Linked DNA regions of Homo sapiens: region 2 is linked to region 1. Evidence: fine-mapped expression QTL. A gene starts in region 1. The other region holds a variant in brackets. All regions are shown on one strand. Distances are between the middles of the regions. Region 1 holds the start of CYTH2 (cytohesin 2). Region 2 holds the start of GRWD1 (glutamate rich WD repeat containing 1).

Region 1 (8,500 bases):
GAAAGGATCCACTGGGTGGGTTGTTTTTTTTTAAAGTGCCATTCTAGAATGTCCAAAGGGAATCAGGATTCTGTGGCTGTAGACTGATCACAGAGTCAAGGAAGCAGTGGCAATTCTAGATATCTGAGATTTTGCTGGTTCCAGTTTGCCCAATGGAGTTGAGAATCTCAATGATTCTAGATGACTTCTTGTGGTTCTGTAATGCCAAAAGGAATGAAGGCTCCAGGGATACAGAGTTGTCCATTACCAAAGCCTGGAAGTTCTCATCACCTCCAGGTGGACTGCTTGGCAGTGCTAGGAGGTGGACTCAGGACTTCAGAAGCAACATTTCTGGCCTGACCTGGAAGGTGAAGGTGAAGGTGAGACCCTGTAGGGCACAGGGCTAATTAGTGGACAAGGGAAGGGGGAGGCCCAGGGCTGGTGAGTCTAGAATGCTCTGGAACCCTACACCTAGTGATGTGTGTCTATTTCTTTTTCTTTTTCTTTTTTTTTTTTTTTTGAGACTGAGTCTCGCTCTGCCGCCCAGGCTGGAGTGCAATGGCGTGATCTCAGCTCACTGCAACCTCCGCCTCCCGGCTTCAAGTGTTTCTCCTGCCTCAGTCTCCTGAGTCGCTGGGATTACAGGCATGAGCCACTATGCCTGGCTAATTTTTGTATTTTTAGTAGAGACGGGGTTTCGCCATGTTGGCGAGGTTGGTCTTGAACTCCCGACCTCAGATGATCCACCTGCCTCGGTCTCCCAAAGTGCTGGGATTACGGGTGTGAGCCACCATGCCCAGCCGTGTGTCTGTTTCTTAAAGATATTATACATATGTATATTATATATATGTAATATAAATACAGATATCTATCTATTTTTTCCCTTGGTCCCTACAACAGGCTTAGAGATGGAGTGCTAGCTAATTGGAATGAGGTCCTTTTCAAGGACCCCAGAAGCTTTGCTCTAAATCCCAATGCTGCCCCAACTTACTGTGTCACTTTGGACTCCTCTTCATGTCAGTTTCCCCATCTGTAAAAACGGGATATTGGAACTTGAAGTTCTTCAGGGGCCTTTCCAGCAGGATGAGTCCTCACTACACCAAGGGTGGGATGGGCATTCGAGTCCTGGGGATTTCCCTCCTCTCCCCAGTGCTGGATCATACGGCCTTCCAGGAGACGCTGGGATGTAAGATACTCTTGGAGGCTGGCTCTGAACTCGGGTGTCTGAATCACAGGGCAAGGGTAGGCGTGGGCTGTGGCTAACAGCCAGAGTCACTTCCCTGGCCTAGCTTGGGGACCTGGGGAGGAGGAGGTAGCTCTGGACACCAGGGTTCTTCCCATTGTGGGAGAGTGAGTGTTTTAGGGGGAGACCTGTCCCCCAGATTAAAGAACTGGGAGCCCTAGCGGATGTGTCTGCGAATGTGTTTCTCGAGCATGGGTCCTCCGACCTGGCCCCCTGCCCATGCTACCATCTACCTAAGTGCCCCGCAGGCTGGGAGCCAACTGCAGAGGGAGCCAGTGACAGTGAGGAGGACGTGTTCCCACCCCGTGTTCTGGACCGAGGGCAGCCACTGTCATTGCCATTCAGCCTTCACAAGTGCTGCATCAACCCAAATGCCCCCTCCAGCTTCTCCATCTCCCTTTATCCCTCAGAATCCCCATGTAATAACCGGATGGGATTAATTAGCTGGCTGCTCTCTCAGCTCAGGGTGTCTGGGGTAGGTAGGGATGGGGGCAATGGAAACGCAGGGTTGGGGAAGGATGTTAAGTTGGAAGTGAAGGGGCAGGGAGGGGGTTTCGTTTGAAAGGAGTATGGGAGCAGGGCAGCCCAGCCTGGGTTTCCACTGGGGAGGGCAGGGCCTGGGCCACTCATAAAGGTCAGTGAGGGGATTAGGAGCCTCCATGTCTAATCCGACAGCTTAACTAGGTCCTGGCCCTGAATCCGTCTCCACCTGCCCAGCCCAGGGACAGCAAATGAGGACGAGGCCCAGACACCACTTCAGCCCCCATTACGGCTTCCCTCTTTACAGGGGTGCCTGGGTTCCCTATTCCAGCCAGTCCCTTGACCACATTCCGTTACAAATAATGGGACATAGAGGCTGGGGAAGGGGAAGGGGAAGGGGCCTCAGAGGAGGGAGGAGTTTAAGAAGGGCAAGGGTGGCTGGGCACGGTGGCTCACGCCTATGGGCACGGTGGCTCACGCCTAGCACTTTGGGAGGCTGAGGCGGGTGGATCACCTGAGGTCAGGAGTTTGAGACCAGCCTGGCCAACATGGCGAAACCCCGTCTCTACTAAAAATACAAAAATTAGCCGGGCATGGTGGTGGGCGCCTATAATCCCAGCTCCTTGGGAGGCTGAGGTAGGAGTATCGCGTCAACCTTGTGGGTGGAGGTTGCAGTGAGCTGAGATCATGCCAGTTCATTCCAGACTGGGCAAAAGAGCAAAACTCTGTCTCAAAAAAAAAAAAAAAAAAAAAAAGGGCAAGAGTATGAGAGGACAAGGGGGACCGTGACGTGAGGGGAGCCAGAGAGGAAAAAAGGCCTCTGAGATGGGAGAAGGAATCAGAGAGGTGGGAGGATGCTGAGGAAAGGGGAGTTGTCTTAGCAGGAGGATGCTTGGGGAAGGGAGGAGTCTTAGGAGGATGCTAAGCTAAAGGAAGGAGTTTGGAGAAATGAGGGAGGAGTCTGAGCGGCAGAAGGTGCCAGGAAGGCCGAGCCTGTGCTTTCACTAAATTTCACCTTCCCCTGTTCCATTCCCCATGACCGATACCAAATAGCATAGCATTTAGAAAAAAGTAAATCTTGGCCAGGCGCGGTGGCTCACGCCTGTAACCCCAGCACTTTGGAGGGCCAAGGTGGGCGGATCATGAGGTCAGGAGTTCGAGACCAGCTTGGCCAACATGGTGAAACGCCCGTCTCTATTAAAAATACAAAAAATAGCCAGGCATGCACCATCATGGTGCAACCCTGTAATCCCAGCTACTCGGGAGGCTGAGGCAGGAGAATTGCTTGAACCCGGGAGGCGGAGGTTGCAGTGAACCGAGATCGCGCAACTGCACTCCAGCTTGGGCGACAGAGCAAGACTCTGTCTCAAAAAAAAAAAAAAAAGAAAAAACGAAGAAGTCTTTTGTTTCACCACTCCACGACTCCGAAGAGGCTGAGGGGGATGGGGAGGGCATAGATGGTGATAAAGAAGGAGTTCGGCGGTAAGAAGGGGCTGAGAGGAGGGGAAATACGCGGAGAAGAAATGCAAAAGAAAAGGAGGCCTAAAGCCGCTCCCGGTTGCATGGCAACCTTTGCGGTCAGAAGCCAGCATGGCCTGCTAGGAGGTGTGGCTTACGGAAACAAGCCAGTTCTAGCCCCGCCTCCTAGCAACAAGACTAACAAAGTACCGCCCCCTAGCAACGTATTATCGGAGGCGGGGCTCGGTTTACCTAGACTCCAAGTGTCCAGGGCCTTTGAGCAGGCGCAGAGGTGGCTGTACCGCGTGGCTCCGCCTCCGCGCGACACTTTTCCGGGGCTTCTCATTGGAGAGCAAGCCTGTCAAGTGCTTTCTGTTGTTTCGGAGGCGGGGCCTGCTGCCCTGCCTGCACTCCGATTGGCCCCGCGGGCCGTCTACCTCTGGCCGGACATACCTACACCGGCTTTTTGTACGACTGTTGGCCCTGGAGAACGATCCTTTGGTGGCGAGGGCGGGGAGGACGAAAGCGCCCACTGTGGATTGGACAGTGTCAAAAAGAGGGGCGGTCCCTACTGAAGGGGCGGTTGGGCGACGAAGGGAAGAGTCTTTTCAGCGCTGAGGACTGGCGCTGAGGAGGCGGCGGTGGCTCCCGGGGCGTTTGAGCGGGCTCACCCGAGCCCGCGGGCCAACGCGGATCCAGGCCCGACTGGCGGGACCGCCCCGGATTCCCCGCGGGCCTTCCTAGCCGCCATGGAGGACGGCGTCTATGGTAGGTCGGGGAGGGGCGGGGTCGGCTGGGAGTTGCTGGAGCGTTTTCTCCTGAACGTTCCGCCGCGAACGTTTCCCCCTGGCGCGCGGCGCCCAGAAGCGTTCGGCTCAGTCGTAGACTTGTCGCGCCGCTTTTGTTGGGCGCTGGACGGGCTTCCGGCGGGGCCCGAAAGCCGGGCGTTCCAGGCCATTGTTTGGGCTGAGCCTGTTTCCGGTGGCGGCGGGAGGGGCGGGATGGAGTGGTGGAGGCGAGGCCGGGGCGGAACCATTCCCGCTGGAGGGGCGGGCGAGCCCAGCGCCTGCCGGGGCCGGGGAGGGGCGCTTGGGTTGCGGGGAGGGGAGAAATCTTGGGGGGCGGGGGCCTTCGATGTCCCGCCCCACCTTCCCAACTCTCCTGAGCTGTCATCAGTTCCCCCGGCTGTAGTGACTTTTCATGGACCCAGTAGTCCGGATAACCAGGTCCCCAGCTACCTCGCCAGTAATGGAGTCAGAAAACCAAGGCCTCAGTCCCCTTCCAAGTAATGGACCTAGAAGCCGAGGCCCCCAGCCCTTTCTTCCCTCAGATCTAAGAGCTCAGGCACCCATTCCCCTTCTCCCTCAGACTCAGGAATCCGGGCCCCAATTCCCCTTGTCCCCCAGGACTCAAGAGTTTAGAGCCCCAGCTCTTTCTCCTCTGCAGGGAGGAATCCAGGCCCCCAGCCCATTCTTCTGTGCAGACATAGGAAGCCCCTTACACATCCTCTCCCAGCTCTGTCCGCCCCCAGATTGCAGGAATTCAGGCTCACGGCCCCTAGCACTGACTTTTAAACCTTGACCCCGATCCCTAGAACCCCCAGACCTGACTCCGGAGGAGCGGATGGAGCTGGAGAACATCCGGCGGCGGAAGCAGGAGCTGCTGGTGGAGATTCAGCGCCTGCGGGAGGAGCTCAGTGAAGCCATGAGCGAGGTGGAGGGGCTGGAGGCCAATGAGGGCAGGTGAGGGCTGGGGCGGATGACCTAGGGGGCGTGGGGTTGGCTGAGGCCAGGGATGCCCAGGCATTGACCCTCCACCCCCAACCCTGCTCTCTGCTCCTGCAGTAAGACCTTGCAACGGAACCGGAAGATGGCAATGGGCAGGAAGAAGTTCAACATGGACCCCAAGAAGGTGCTTGGGGCCACAGGACTGGGATCAGCTGGGCAAACATCCAGGCAGGGGCTTCTGGCACCTCCGGGTTCCAGAAGCGTGATGGTGCCGGGTCTATTCTAGGTGGACAGACTTGGTCCTAATCCCTGGATTCAGATACTGGCTGTCCATTTGTTTTCTGAACACTGAACACTGACCAAGTGTTCCAGCCCTCCTGACTGTTTTGTCCCCTGCCTGGAAGGTCGTCTTCCACTTTCTACTTGTATGGGCGCATTTCTGGTCCCAAGATGAGCTCGAGTCTTGTAGGGGCTGTGGACAAAGTGACATGCACAAAGGAGAGTTGACCTCTCTCCCACAAAGGTGCCGTGACGGAGGAAGGTATCAGGGTAGTGGACCTCTGGAGGAGGCAGGCTGGTGGAGTCAGGGAGGGCTTCCTTGAGGAGGAGACATTCAGGTCGGGTTTGAAGGATGAGTAGGTGTTCACCAGGTGGAGGAAAGGCTTTTGTTCACCTACTCTTTGTGTGTGTGTGTGAGACAGAGTCTTGCTCTATCACCCAGGCTGGAGTGCAGCGATGTGATCTCGGCTCACTAACCTCCGCCTCCTGCGATTCTCCTGCCTCAGCCTCCCAAGTAGCTGGGCTTACAGGCTCCCACCACCATGCCCAGCTAATTTTTGTATTTTTAGTACAGATGGGGTTTCACCATGTTGGCCAGGCTGCTTCCAAACTCCTGACGTCAGGTGATCCGCCCGCCTCAGCCTCCCAAAGTGTTGGGATTACAGGCATGAGCCACCGTGCCTGGCCTGTTCACATACTCATTTAACACCCATTTTCTGAGGCCTCTCAAGAGTCTGATCCTGTGTAGGGCAATGCTGGGGACCCAAAGAAGAATTAGATGCTGCCTTGTGCTCAGAGAGCCCTTGGACACCGATACCACAGTTCACAGTGAGATAAAGCAGTAGTAGAGAGGTCTTCGTAGCACAGAGAGTGAGAGAAACCTCCAGTCTAGCCAGGGCTTCGAGTTCACAGCCCTTGAAGGACTGCGTCTGCTAACAGGTTGTCACGTTATTCTTTCCTGAAGCAATTGGAATTCTGTTCAGTCATTCAACAAACATTGATTGGCTGGGTTCGGTGGCTTATGCCTGTAATCCCAGTGCTTTGAGAGGCCGAGGAGGGAGGATTGCTTGAAGCCAGGAATTTGAGACCAGCCTGGGCAGCATAGTGATAACTCATCTCTAGAAAAAATATAAATAAATAAATTAGCCAGGTGTGTTGGGGCATGCCTATAGTCCCAGCTTCTGAGGAGGCCGAAGTGAGAGGATCCCTTGAGCCCAGCAGTTCGAAGCTGCAATGAGCTGTGATCACGCCACTGCACTCCAGTCTGCAATAGAGCGAGACCAGGTCTCAGAAAAAAGAGAAAATGTACTGAGCACCTGTGCCTTGCCAGACCCTGTTGTTGGTGCTGGAATTAACCAGGCAAAGGCAGAGAGGGTAGGCCATGAAGTGCAAAGGCCATGAGTTGGGAAGAATGCTATTTAAGACCTGTGAGAAGGCTGAAAATGAAACCTGGCCCTGGTCTGTTGAGGGTGGGGGTAGGTCTGGATGCTGAGGTTCCCAGGGAGGTGAGTGGGGTGGCTTTCTGGCCCTCAGCACTGAGACCTTGTCCCCACCCACCAGGGGATCCAGTTCTTGGTGGAGAATGAACTGCTGCAGAACACACCCGAGGAGATCGCCCGCTTCCTGTACAAGGGCGAGGGGCTGAACAAGACAGCCATCGGGGACTACCTGGGGGAGAGGTACGGTCACCACTCAGCTCCTGTGGGGCCCCTCCCTCCCACCCCCCAGACCCAGCTCCTGCCCTCACACTGGCAGCTCACAGGTGGAACAGCCCTGCAGCCTCCCCGCAGAGGGGCCCTGGCAGATCAGCCTTCTGACTGGACTGTGACAGAATGGACTGACATGGGCTAGGGGAGCCTGCGGCCAACCGAGAGCATCTGGGGATGTGGGGCCTTCTGGAATTACCTGGCAGTTGTGGGGAAGCATCCATTTATGTCTGAGAAGGGTAGAGAACATCTCTCAAGGATCATGGGAGCTTGAGAACCGTGGGTAGACCATGGCTGTGCATAGGCACTGGGTGGCCATCTGGGAGCTGTGGGGACCGCTGGGCCCTTGTGGGAGCTTAGGAGTTGTGGGGGTCATTTGGAAGCCTAGGGTGCACAGGACTGGACATCAGATGATTGGAGGCCATCTGTGGACGTCTGGGAATCAGGGATTTATAGAGATCTGGGGTGCTTGGGAAGCATCTCTGGATGTCTGGGGGATGTGGGGGCTGTGTCTGGATACCTGGGGAGCATGGGGATCATTTGAGAGAGGTGACAGTAGGTAGCATACATGTTTGCGGCATTTCTCCCAACTGTACAAAGGTCTGGCCTAAGCAGGGTTCCCAAGCCAGATATTCCTCCCAAGAGTGTGTTCTGAGCATCCCCCACCCTGGGGGCAGGCCTGTGTGGGAGTCCAGCAGGAAACTTCACCCTCGGCAGTGGGCAGCTGTGGTGCAGTAGAGGGGGCACGACTTCCCCAGGGCATTGCCCTTTGCCCATTCCTGCCCCATCCTTTCCAAACTGTATGTGTCTTTGTCCCATCCTTCCAGGGAAGAACTGAACCTGGCAGTGCTCCATGCTTTTGTGGATCTGCATGAGTTCACCGACCTCAATCTGGTGCAGGCCCTCAGGTGAGTGAGGGGGAGGGGTTTGGAACGCCAGGAATGTACCTGTCAGGGCCTTCCTAGTTACAAGTGACAAACCTTACTCAAGAAAAAAACAGAAACAAGCAAAACAGAAACAAAAACTAGGGAACTGAGTGTGTCCTGCACCATAAAAGTTCAGGGTTATGGCCTCCTTCAGGTATGGCTATATCCAGGAGCTCAAATGGTGGTCAGAAAGTCGACTTTCTTTGCCTCTTGTATTTGCCACTGTGTCAGCATTGCTCTCTGCAGACCCGCTTACCTGATAACAAGCCTCAACCAACCCCCAGACCTGTCTAGCGAACTTAGCAGAAAGAGGCTATTTCTGTAGGGATTCACAACACTCCCGTGGCCAATGCCCATTGGTGAGACTGGATCATGTGACCATACCTGAAACAACTGCTGAGGCCGGAAGGTCGGGATTCCTCGTGGACCAGTTCCTAACACAGGGACTGAGAGTGGGGACAGGCTCCCACCAGCCCTGGCATCCATTCCTGGCCCCTCCCCAACCCAGGCAGTTTCTATGGAGCTTTCGCCTACCCGGAGAGGCCCAGAAAATTGACCGGATGATGGAGGCCTTCGCCCAGCGATACTGCCTGTGCAACCCTGGGGTTTTCCAGTCCACAGGTGCGGGCCCCAAATCCTGGGTCCTGGGAAAGAGGAGACTGGGGCCCAGACTCCTAGGTCTGAGGGAGGGAGGGGGCTGGG
Region 2 (8,412 bases), 22 kb before region 1:
TACCTCGATCTCGAGCCGTCGCCGTCGGACTCGGAGGACTCGGAGAGCCTGGGCGGCGCGTCGCTGGGCGGCCTGGAGCCCTGGTGGTTCGCCGACTTCCCTTACCCGTATGCCGAGCGCCTCGGGCCGCCGCCCGGCCGCTACTGGTCGGTCGACAAGCTCGGGGGCTGGCGCGCCGGGAGCTGGGACTACCTGCCCCCGCGCAGCGGTCCGGCCGCCTGGCACTGTCGGCACTGCGCCAGCCTGGAGCTGCTGCCGCCGCCGCGCCATCTCAGCTGCTCGCACGATGGCCTGGACGGCGGCTGGTGGGCGCCACCGCCTCCACCCTGGGCCGCCGGGCCCCTGCCCCGACGCCGGGCCCGCTGCGGGTGCCCGCGGTCGCACCCGCACCGCCCGCGGGCCTCGCACCGCACGCCCGCCGCCGCCGCGCCCCACCACCACAGGCACCGGCGCGCCGCTGGGGGCTGGGACCTCCCGCCGCCCGCGCCCACCTCGCGCTCGCTCGAGGACCTCAGCTCGTGCCCTCGCGCCGCCCCTGCGCGCAGGCTTACCGGGCCCTCCCGCCACGCTCGCAGGTGTCCGCACGCCGCGCACTGGGGGCCGCCGCTGCCCACAGCTTCCCACCGGAGACACCGGGGCGGGGACCTGGGCACCCGCAGGGGCTCGGCGCACTTCTCTAGCCTCGAGTCCGAGGTATGACGCGGCCCCGGGGGCCCCACCGCCCCCTTGGTCAGCGCAGGCCACGGCCCGAGGGGGCGCCCGCAGTGGACAGGACCCGCGTGGGTTGGGAAGGAAAGCAGTGGAACTGGCCGGACCCCGCCTGGAGCAGCGTCCTGCGCCCCCTGGTTCTGGAGGAACCGCAAGCCGGAGAGGATTTGGTCCCTCAACTATCACCCAGCCTGAGAACGAGGGGGCGGGGGCCTTGGAGCCCACCGGACTTTTTTTTAAACCCGACAAGGGCTTTTTAACGTCACCAGATGGGGCGGGAGGTGGGGGGTTCACGCCACTCCCGCGTCCCACCTCCACGCCCGGGGCCGTGGCCCCCACATCACTGTGCAGCTCCCCGGCCCCAGCCGCGCCTCCGGGGAAGCCCGTTTTTAACCTTTCATCCATTGGGACTCAAAACTGTGAGACGCGTTCGCCAAACTGTGACCCCAGACCTTGGCCCCGCCACACAGAAACCCCTGACCCAGACTGTGACATCCGACTCCTAAAATGGTCATCCGACTCCAGACTGTGACCCCTGACCCCAAACTGTGACCCGAACCCCAGACTGTGCCCCGACCAGACTGTGACCCTTGACATCAAACCGTGACACCCCCTCCTCCTCTTCCACCCTCGGTCGCTTTTCCCTACTCTGACCTAGGACACGTCCCCAACGGAAGCCCCGCCTTCCCTTGCACCGCGATGAACCCAACCTCCCTGAAGCCAAAACTTCCCACCCTGCCGCACCTCCGGACCACCCCACTTGCCACCAAGCACATCCTCTCCAAATCCAACCCTTATTTGCGACCCTTCAGTGATGACCCAGCAGACCTCCAAAAAGCCTCCTCTGCCCAGATCTCCAGCCGGGTCTGGGGCTGGGTTGCGGAGGGGAGGGTCTGGGAGTCCACACTTCTCCACCAACTTCCCTTCCCACTCTCTTATTCCACATTGCAGTGTTTGGAATAAACCATGTTTTTATGCCTCCTCAGTCCAAGCCTAAGCTCCGTATCTGTTAGCCCCCCTCAAATTCTCTGGAGGAAACAGAAACACAAAAGTCCCACAGGGGAAGAGGAGACAGAATTAGAGAGAGAACAGAGACTCTGAAAGGAGGTGCCTGGGGAGACAAAGACCAAGAAAGAGGAGGTGGGAAGAGACCCTGAAAAGAAAGTCGAGAGGGTACTGGGGCAGATAAGAGACCCCAAGAGAGTGGTGAGATAGATCCCGGAGACAAAACATATTAAGATCAAAGGTATGGTTTTATTTCCTATGGCTATAGGTACCAAGGCTTGCTACATTCTCAATATCCTGTTCATGCAAGCTAGGAGAGTGTCTGACATATCCCAGCCAATCCGCATTATCTTGAATGCTGTTAATCTCACCAATGAGAATCTATTTCTAACATTTCATTATGTCAATTAGCCAAACCGCTGGTGCTGATGGGCGATAAAGAGAGACGAAGCACTTGTAATAGCTGCCTCCAGAGGGTGGACTTTCTGATTAAGTGCTCGCTGACCAGAGCTGAAATGTGAATGTCTGGTTAGGCAATTGACTGCCCCTAGAGGGTAGATTGAACCGCCTAACTTACAGATAATATCCATCCTGTCTACAAGAAAGCATTTTTGAAACAAATGAAAGCCATCACAACAGAGAGAGGAAAAGAAACCGGCCTTATGGGTCCTCGGGGAGTAGAAACTCAGTCTCCTTGCCAGTGAAAGAGCAAATTTGCATATATGAATAATTAATTAACTGGAAAGAACGCTCTCGGAATCAAACTGGACAATGGGGAAAACAAGCCTCCCGTAGAACTACAACTCCCAGAAGGCCTTGCCACTACCGCGAGGAACAGCGCCCAAAGTCACGCGAAGATGCAGTTTCTCCGTATCCGCAGGCTTCTTTCGCTGGCGCCATTACCTGAGTTCTCCTCCAGCGTTTCCGCACCCTCTCCGATTAGCGGTCCCAGGAGTTTCCAAGGTAACCGCGCAGTAGGGCGGATCTCATTAGGCGGAAAGCGAAACCCGGAAGTGACGCTCTTACCGGGTGTCAGCAGCGAGAGGGTTCGAAGATGGCGGCGCGCAAGGGTCGGCGGCGCACGTGTGAAACCGGGGAACCCATGGAAGCCGAGTCCGGCGACACAAGTTCCGAGGGCCCGGCCCAGGTCTACCTGCCCGGCCGGGGGCCGCCGCTACGCGAAGGGGAGGAGCTGGTCATGGACGAGGAGGCCTATGTGCTCTACCACCGAGCGCAGACTGGTAGGGCTGAGTCCGGACTCCAGGGTCCTGAGGTGGCTGATCCCGAGCCTTTAACCTGAGAGGTGCTCGGGAAGAGAAGGCTGGGGTCTAAGAGAAGTGATTTCATACCGGAGGCGGTTGATCCATGAGGGAGGTGGGGACTGAGCTCTTACTGTCCCGTCTTAACTCGTAAACCCCGCCTTCCATCCCCAGGCGCCCCCTGTCTCAGCTTTGACATAGTCCGGGATCACCTGGGAGACAACCGGACAGAGCTTCCTCTTACACTTTACTTGTGTGCTGGGACCCAGGCTGAGAGCGCCCAGAGCAACAGGTAAGACCCGAGGCTTTTCCAGGACCAGGAGGCTCAGTTTCCAGCCCCTTCCTCAGCACCCAGGAGTTAGGGCTTCCAGTTTCTGCCTCTCGCAGATCCAGGAGTCTGGGTTTCCAGCCTCTCTCCTTCCTAAGAATCCTGGAATCTAGTGCCTAACTCACCCCACAATTTCTCCCAGACTGATGATGCTTCGGATGCACAATCTGCATGGGACAAAGCCCCCACCCTCAGAGGGCAGTGATGAAGAAGAAGAGGAGGAAGATGAAGAGGATGAAGAAGAGCGGAAACCTCAGCTGGAGCTGGCCATGGTGCCCCACTATGGTGGCATCAACCGAGTTCGGGTAAGTATGGTCCCAGGAGCCTGCTCTGCATACTCTGAAACACATCTGACCCATCCCCTGTGTCCATAACTCCCAACACCTCCTCATGTTCTTTTTTTTTTTTTTTTTTTTGAGACGTAGTCTCGCTCTGTCACCCAGGCTGGAGTGCAGTGGCGCAGCCTCGGCTCACTGCAACCTCTGCCTCCCAAAGTGCTGGGATTACAAGCGTGAGCCACCGTGCCTGGCCCATTTTTTTTTTTTTTTTTTTTGAGATGGAGTCTCGCTCTGTTGTCCAGGCTGGAGTGCAGTGGTGCGATCTTGGCTCACTGCAACCTCCCCTTCCCAGGTTCAAGGGATTCTCCTGCCTCAGCCTCCCAAGTAGCTGGGGCTATAGGCGCCTGCCACCAGGCCCTTCTAATTTTTTGTTTTTTGGTTTTTTTTTGAGATGAAGTCTTGCTCTGTCGCTTAGACTGGAGGGCAATGGCATGATCTCAGCTCACTGCAACCTCTGCCTCCCAGGTTCAAGCGATTCTCCTGCCTCAGCCAAGTAGCTGAGATTACAGGTGCGCGCCACCACGCCCGGCTAATTTTTGTATTCTTAGTAGGGACGGGGTTTCACAATGTTGATCAGGCTGGTGGTGAACTCCTGACCTCGTGATCCGCCTGCCTCGGCTTCCCAAAGTGCTGAGATTACAGGCGTGAGCCACCGCATCTGGCCAATTTTTTGTATTTTTAGTAGAGACAAGGTTTCGCCTTGTTGGCTAGGCTGGTCTCAAACTCCTGACCTCGAGTGATTGATC[C/T]GCACGCCTCGGGCACCCAAAGTCATGGGATTACAAGCGTGAGCCACCACACCCGGCCTCCTTCAGTTTTTAGAAAAGTACTTGTCACATAGTTTTATACAATTTAGCTATTATGATCAGTGTCATTACATGTTAGGTACTGTTTTAGATTATGAGGATATGGTTTATGTTCTTCACTTTTCTCTTTGGTAACATAGTGAGTTATAGAACTTATCTGATGGGGCTGGCATGAGGTCAAATGAAATAACATATAGTGCCTAGAATAGCACCTGGTTGTAATATGAGGTATGTATTTTCTGTTACTATTCAGGAACTGTTTTTGGTTGTGGCTGTTTGTTTTGTTTTTGAGTCATGGTTTCACTCCCATTGCCCAGGCTGGAGTGCAGTGGCGTGATCTTGGCTCACTGCAACCTCTGCCTCCCAGGTTCAAGTGATTCTCCTGCCTCAGCCTCCCGAGTAGCTGGGATCACAAGTGCACACCACCATGCCCAGTAATTTTTGTATTTTTAGTAGAAATGGAGTCTCATTATGTTGGCCAGGCTGGTCTTGAACTCCTGAGCTCAAGTGATCTGCCCACCTTCGCCCCCAAAATGCTGGGATTATAGGCATGAGGCACTGTGTCCAGCCTGTTTATTTGTTTTTTGCTTCAAAGCTAAAACATCTTCTGATCAGGTAGACTTGTAAGTACAATGATACGGTATATGAAGAGCACTTAGAGCAGTACTTGGCTGATAGCTGGGGCTGTCTGTTTCCATGAAATTATTTTTACTATGTTTCAGTACTGTTCTAGATGCAGAGGATTTAGCAGCAAGCAAAAGGTCTCTGGCTCCATCAACTTACACACTAGTGGGGGAAGGGAACGAGATGAAACTAAGTAAATGTGTACCATGTCCAAAGGTGTTAACTATCCTGGAAAAAATCCAATGAAGTAGGGGAAGAGGGTTAGGGTGCTCCAGGAGTGGGGTGCTATTTTTAAACAGTGTGGTTAGGAAAGTATTCTGTCATAAAATGCCATTTGCATAGATACTCACAGGTAGTGGGGCAGTGAACCCTGTAAAAGAATTTGCAGGCAAGGAAAAACACAAGTTCAAAGGCCCTGGGGTGAGCTTGGCATGTTTGAAGAGTTTCAAGTGAAGCGGGAGTGTCCAGTCTGTCTGGAGCAGAATGAACAAAAGGGAGAATGACACAATTTGGGGAGCGGGCACAGAGAAGACATTGTTCAGAGCCTTGTCGGCCACTGTAAGGACTCCAGCTTTTAATTGGGAGACGTTGGAGGGTTTCAGGCAGAGGAAAGACAGGGTCTGACTTCTGTTTTAAAGTGGTCCCTCTGGCTGCTGTCCTTAAATATCAATTGCAGAGAGGTAAGGGTCGGAGGAAAGAATCCTGTGGGGAGACTTACGGTATTCAGGGGAAGGATGACATCAGTAGTAGTGTGACAGCAATAGACATCATGAGAAGGGGGTTGGAAGTGAGCTTTTTTTTTTAGATGAGACAGAGTCTCGCTTTTGTCGCCCAGGCCGGAGCGCAATGGTGCGATCTCGGCTCACTGCAACCTCTGACTCCTGGGTTCAAGCGATTCTCCTGCCTCAGCCTCCTAAGTAGCTGGGATTACAGCCACCCACCAGCACGCCCGACTAATTTTTGCATTTTTAGTAGAGGCGGGGTTTCATCATGTTGGCCAGGGTGGTCTCGCTCCTGACCTCAGGCAGTCTGCCCTCCTCGGCCTCCCAAAGTGCTGGGATTACAGGTGCGAGCCACCGCGCCTGGCCCTGGAAGTGAGCATTTTTACTGTAGTCAGCATAGGTGCTGGGCATGAGGACCAAGAATGAGTTCTGAATTTTGGGGCCTGAGGTGGAGAGAGAGCAGTTGCAGGTGGCAATTAGGAGCTTGGCTTTGGTTGTATCAAGTTTGAATGGTCAGGCTGGCACAGTGGCTGATGCCTGTAATCCCAGCACTTTGGAAAGCTGATGCAGAAGGATCGCTTGAGACCAGGAGTTCCAGACCAGCCTGGGCAATAAAGTGAGACCCTGTCTCTACAAAAAAATTTTAAAAGCCAGATGTGATGGTGCTTACCCATAGTCCCAACTACTTGGGAGGCTGAGGTGAGAGGATCACTTGAGCCCAGGAGGTTGAGGCTGCAGTGAGCCATTATGGCATCACTGCACTCCGTCCTGGGCAACAGAGCGGGACCCTGTCTCAAAAACAAAAAAGTTTGAACGGTCAATGCAGTAAGAGTCTGGAGCCCAGGGGAGAGGTCAGGGCTAGGGGTATTGGAAACCTCGTGGCTGGACTGGGTCTCCTAGTGAACAAACACAGAGGCAAGGAGATCCGAGGACTGAGTCTTGTGGCCTTCTAGCATTTAGAGGGTTACCGAGACCAGGAGCCTGAACACCCTCCCAAGGGCTGGTGGGAATTGCAGCCTCAACTCCCAGGCATCCTGGGGCTCTATCCTCCCACCTCAGCTCCCCCACCCACTCCCACCCCCTGTGGAGAGCTGTCCCAGTTACCATGCTGGTTTTTGCAGGTTGTGATTTTCTTCCCACAGAGGTTTCAAGGAGCTGTAGTCCCAGGCCTGGGAGATCTGAGGAAGCGCACTTCTGGTTCTCTGGGATATGGGGAGCGTGGGGTCAGTGCCTTGATCCTCCTCTCCCCTCGCTTCACATCACCCTTCCCCCACCGCTCTTCTGCAGGTGTCATGGCTGGGTGAAGAGCCTGTGGCTGGGGTGTGGTCAGAGAAGGGCCAGGTGGAGGTGTTTGCGCTGCGGCGGCTTCTGCAGGTGGTGGAGGAGCCCCAGGCCCTGGCAGCCTTCCTCCGGGATGAGCAGGCCCAAATGAAGCCCATCTTCTCCTTCGCTGGACACATGGGCGAGGGCTTTGCCCTTGACTGGTCCCCCCGGGTGACCGGTGAGTCCCTGGGGTGTTCAGGAGTCCCGGGAGGTCGGGGGAGCAGGGTCTGCAACAAGGGGCCGGGCGCTTAGACTCCAAGGAGGGGAGCGAGCTGCGGCCAGGTGGGGCGAGGTCATTTCCTGACTCCCTTCCCCAGGTCGCCTGCTGACCGGTGACTGTCAAAAGAACATCCACCTCTGGACACCTACGGACGGCGGCTCCTGGCACGTGGACCAGCGGCCATTCGTGGGCCACACACGCTCTGTGGAGGACCTGCAGTGGTCACCGACTGAGAACACGGTGAGGGAGGGTGGGGTTCTGGTCGTTTAGTTCTGATGGATTCTAGGCCAGGGACCTAGAATCCTAGGTCTGAGGGAAAAGAGGGCTGGGAGCCTGACGGAGGTTTAGTTTCCAGGCCAAGTCATAGTAAGGGGAACAGTGAAAGAGAGAGTAGCCCACCGCTGGCGCTTGGGCTTCACTGCGGGCTGGGGGGCATTGGGACCACTCAGACTCCGCCTCCCCCAGGTGTTTGCCTCCTGCTCAGCTGACGCCTCCATCCGCATCTGGGACATCCGGGCAGCCCCCAGCAAGGCCTGCATGCTCACCACAGCCACCGCCCATGATGGGGACGTCAATGTCATCAGCTGGAGCCGCCGGGAGCCCTTCCTGCTCAGTGGCGGGGATGATGGGGCCCTCAAGATCTGGGACCTTCGGCAGTTCAAGGTATTTTCCCAGCCGGACACCTGGGGGCTAGAGAAGCTTGCTCCCAGCAGCCCCTGGGATTTGTAGGATTTTTCCTCCTTGAATAGTTTTACACAACCAGAGCTGGAGAGCCCTTAGAACTAGACTCCTGCCTCTTCAGGGTACAGAGGAGGAAACTGAGGCTCAGCAAGAGGAAGGGTGGCGGGTCTCCACTCTTGGGGTCACTCACTCTACCAGGGGAACAGCTGACAAGAGATGGAAGGGGCTGGGGCAGCAGAGACTAGGACTCTCATCTGCCTGTGGGCAGAAGTACAGGTGTCTGTACGGCCAGTGCTGAGAGCTTCAGAGAGTTGTAGATTTCTAGATGCAACTGAGAATCGGGGCCCAGCCTGCTCGTTGTAGGAGAAGACTGAGGCACAGAAAGGACAGGAGCCGCTGTG

What was found. PIP is the estimated chance that this variant, and not a neighbour inherited with it, causes the effect.
Region 2: its variant is fine-mapped to the expression of CYTH2 in transverse colon (GTEx, PIP 0.96). The same link has a PIP of 0.9 or more in fibroblasts.

The regions. Positions count from the first base shown.
Region 1 is chr19:48,465,599-48,474,098 of GRCh38, forward strand. It overlaps CYTH2 (cytohesin 2), which reads left to right and starts at 3,771. Exons shown (of 12, transcript NM_004228.7): 1 at 3,771-3,928; 2 at 4,755-4,902; 3 at 5,005-5,071; 4 at 6,727-6,845; 5 at 7,700-7,780; 6 at 8,307-8,419. The coding sequence starts at 3,910. KCNJ14 (potassium inwardly rectifying channel subfamily J member 14) reads left to right here. Exons shown (of 3, transcript NM_013348.4): 3 at 1-1,382. It overlaps LOC105372430 (a long non-coding RNA gene), which reads right to left and starts at 3,935. Exons shown (of 3, transcript NR_186576.1): 1 at 3,413-3,935; 2 at 971-1,009; 3 at 1-340. RefSeq lists enhancers at 2,872-3,372, 3,077-3,236, 3,430-4,423 and silencers at 3,787-3,976, 8,021-8,221.
Region 2 is chr19:48,443,239-48,451,650 of GRCh38, forward strand. It overlaps GRIN2D (glutamate ionotropic receptor NMDA type subunit 2D), which reads left to right. Exons shown (of 14, transcript NM_000836.4): 14 at 1-1,693. The coding sequence ends at 699. It overlaps GRWD1 (glutamate rich WD repeat containing 1), which reads left to right and starts at 2,745. Exons shown (of 7, transcript NM_031485.4): 1 at 2,745-2,954; 2 at 3,147-3,264; 3 at 3,443-3,605; 4 at 7,075-7,288; 5 at 7,428-7,570; 6 at 7,796-7,993. The coding sequence starts at 2,768. RefSeq lists enhancers at 632-1,323, 2,496-2,575, 2,736-2,825. The variant C/T (reference allele first, on the strand shown) is at 4,385.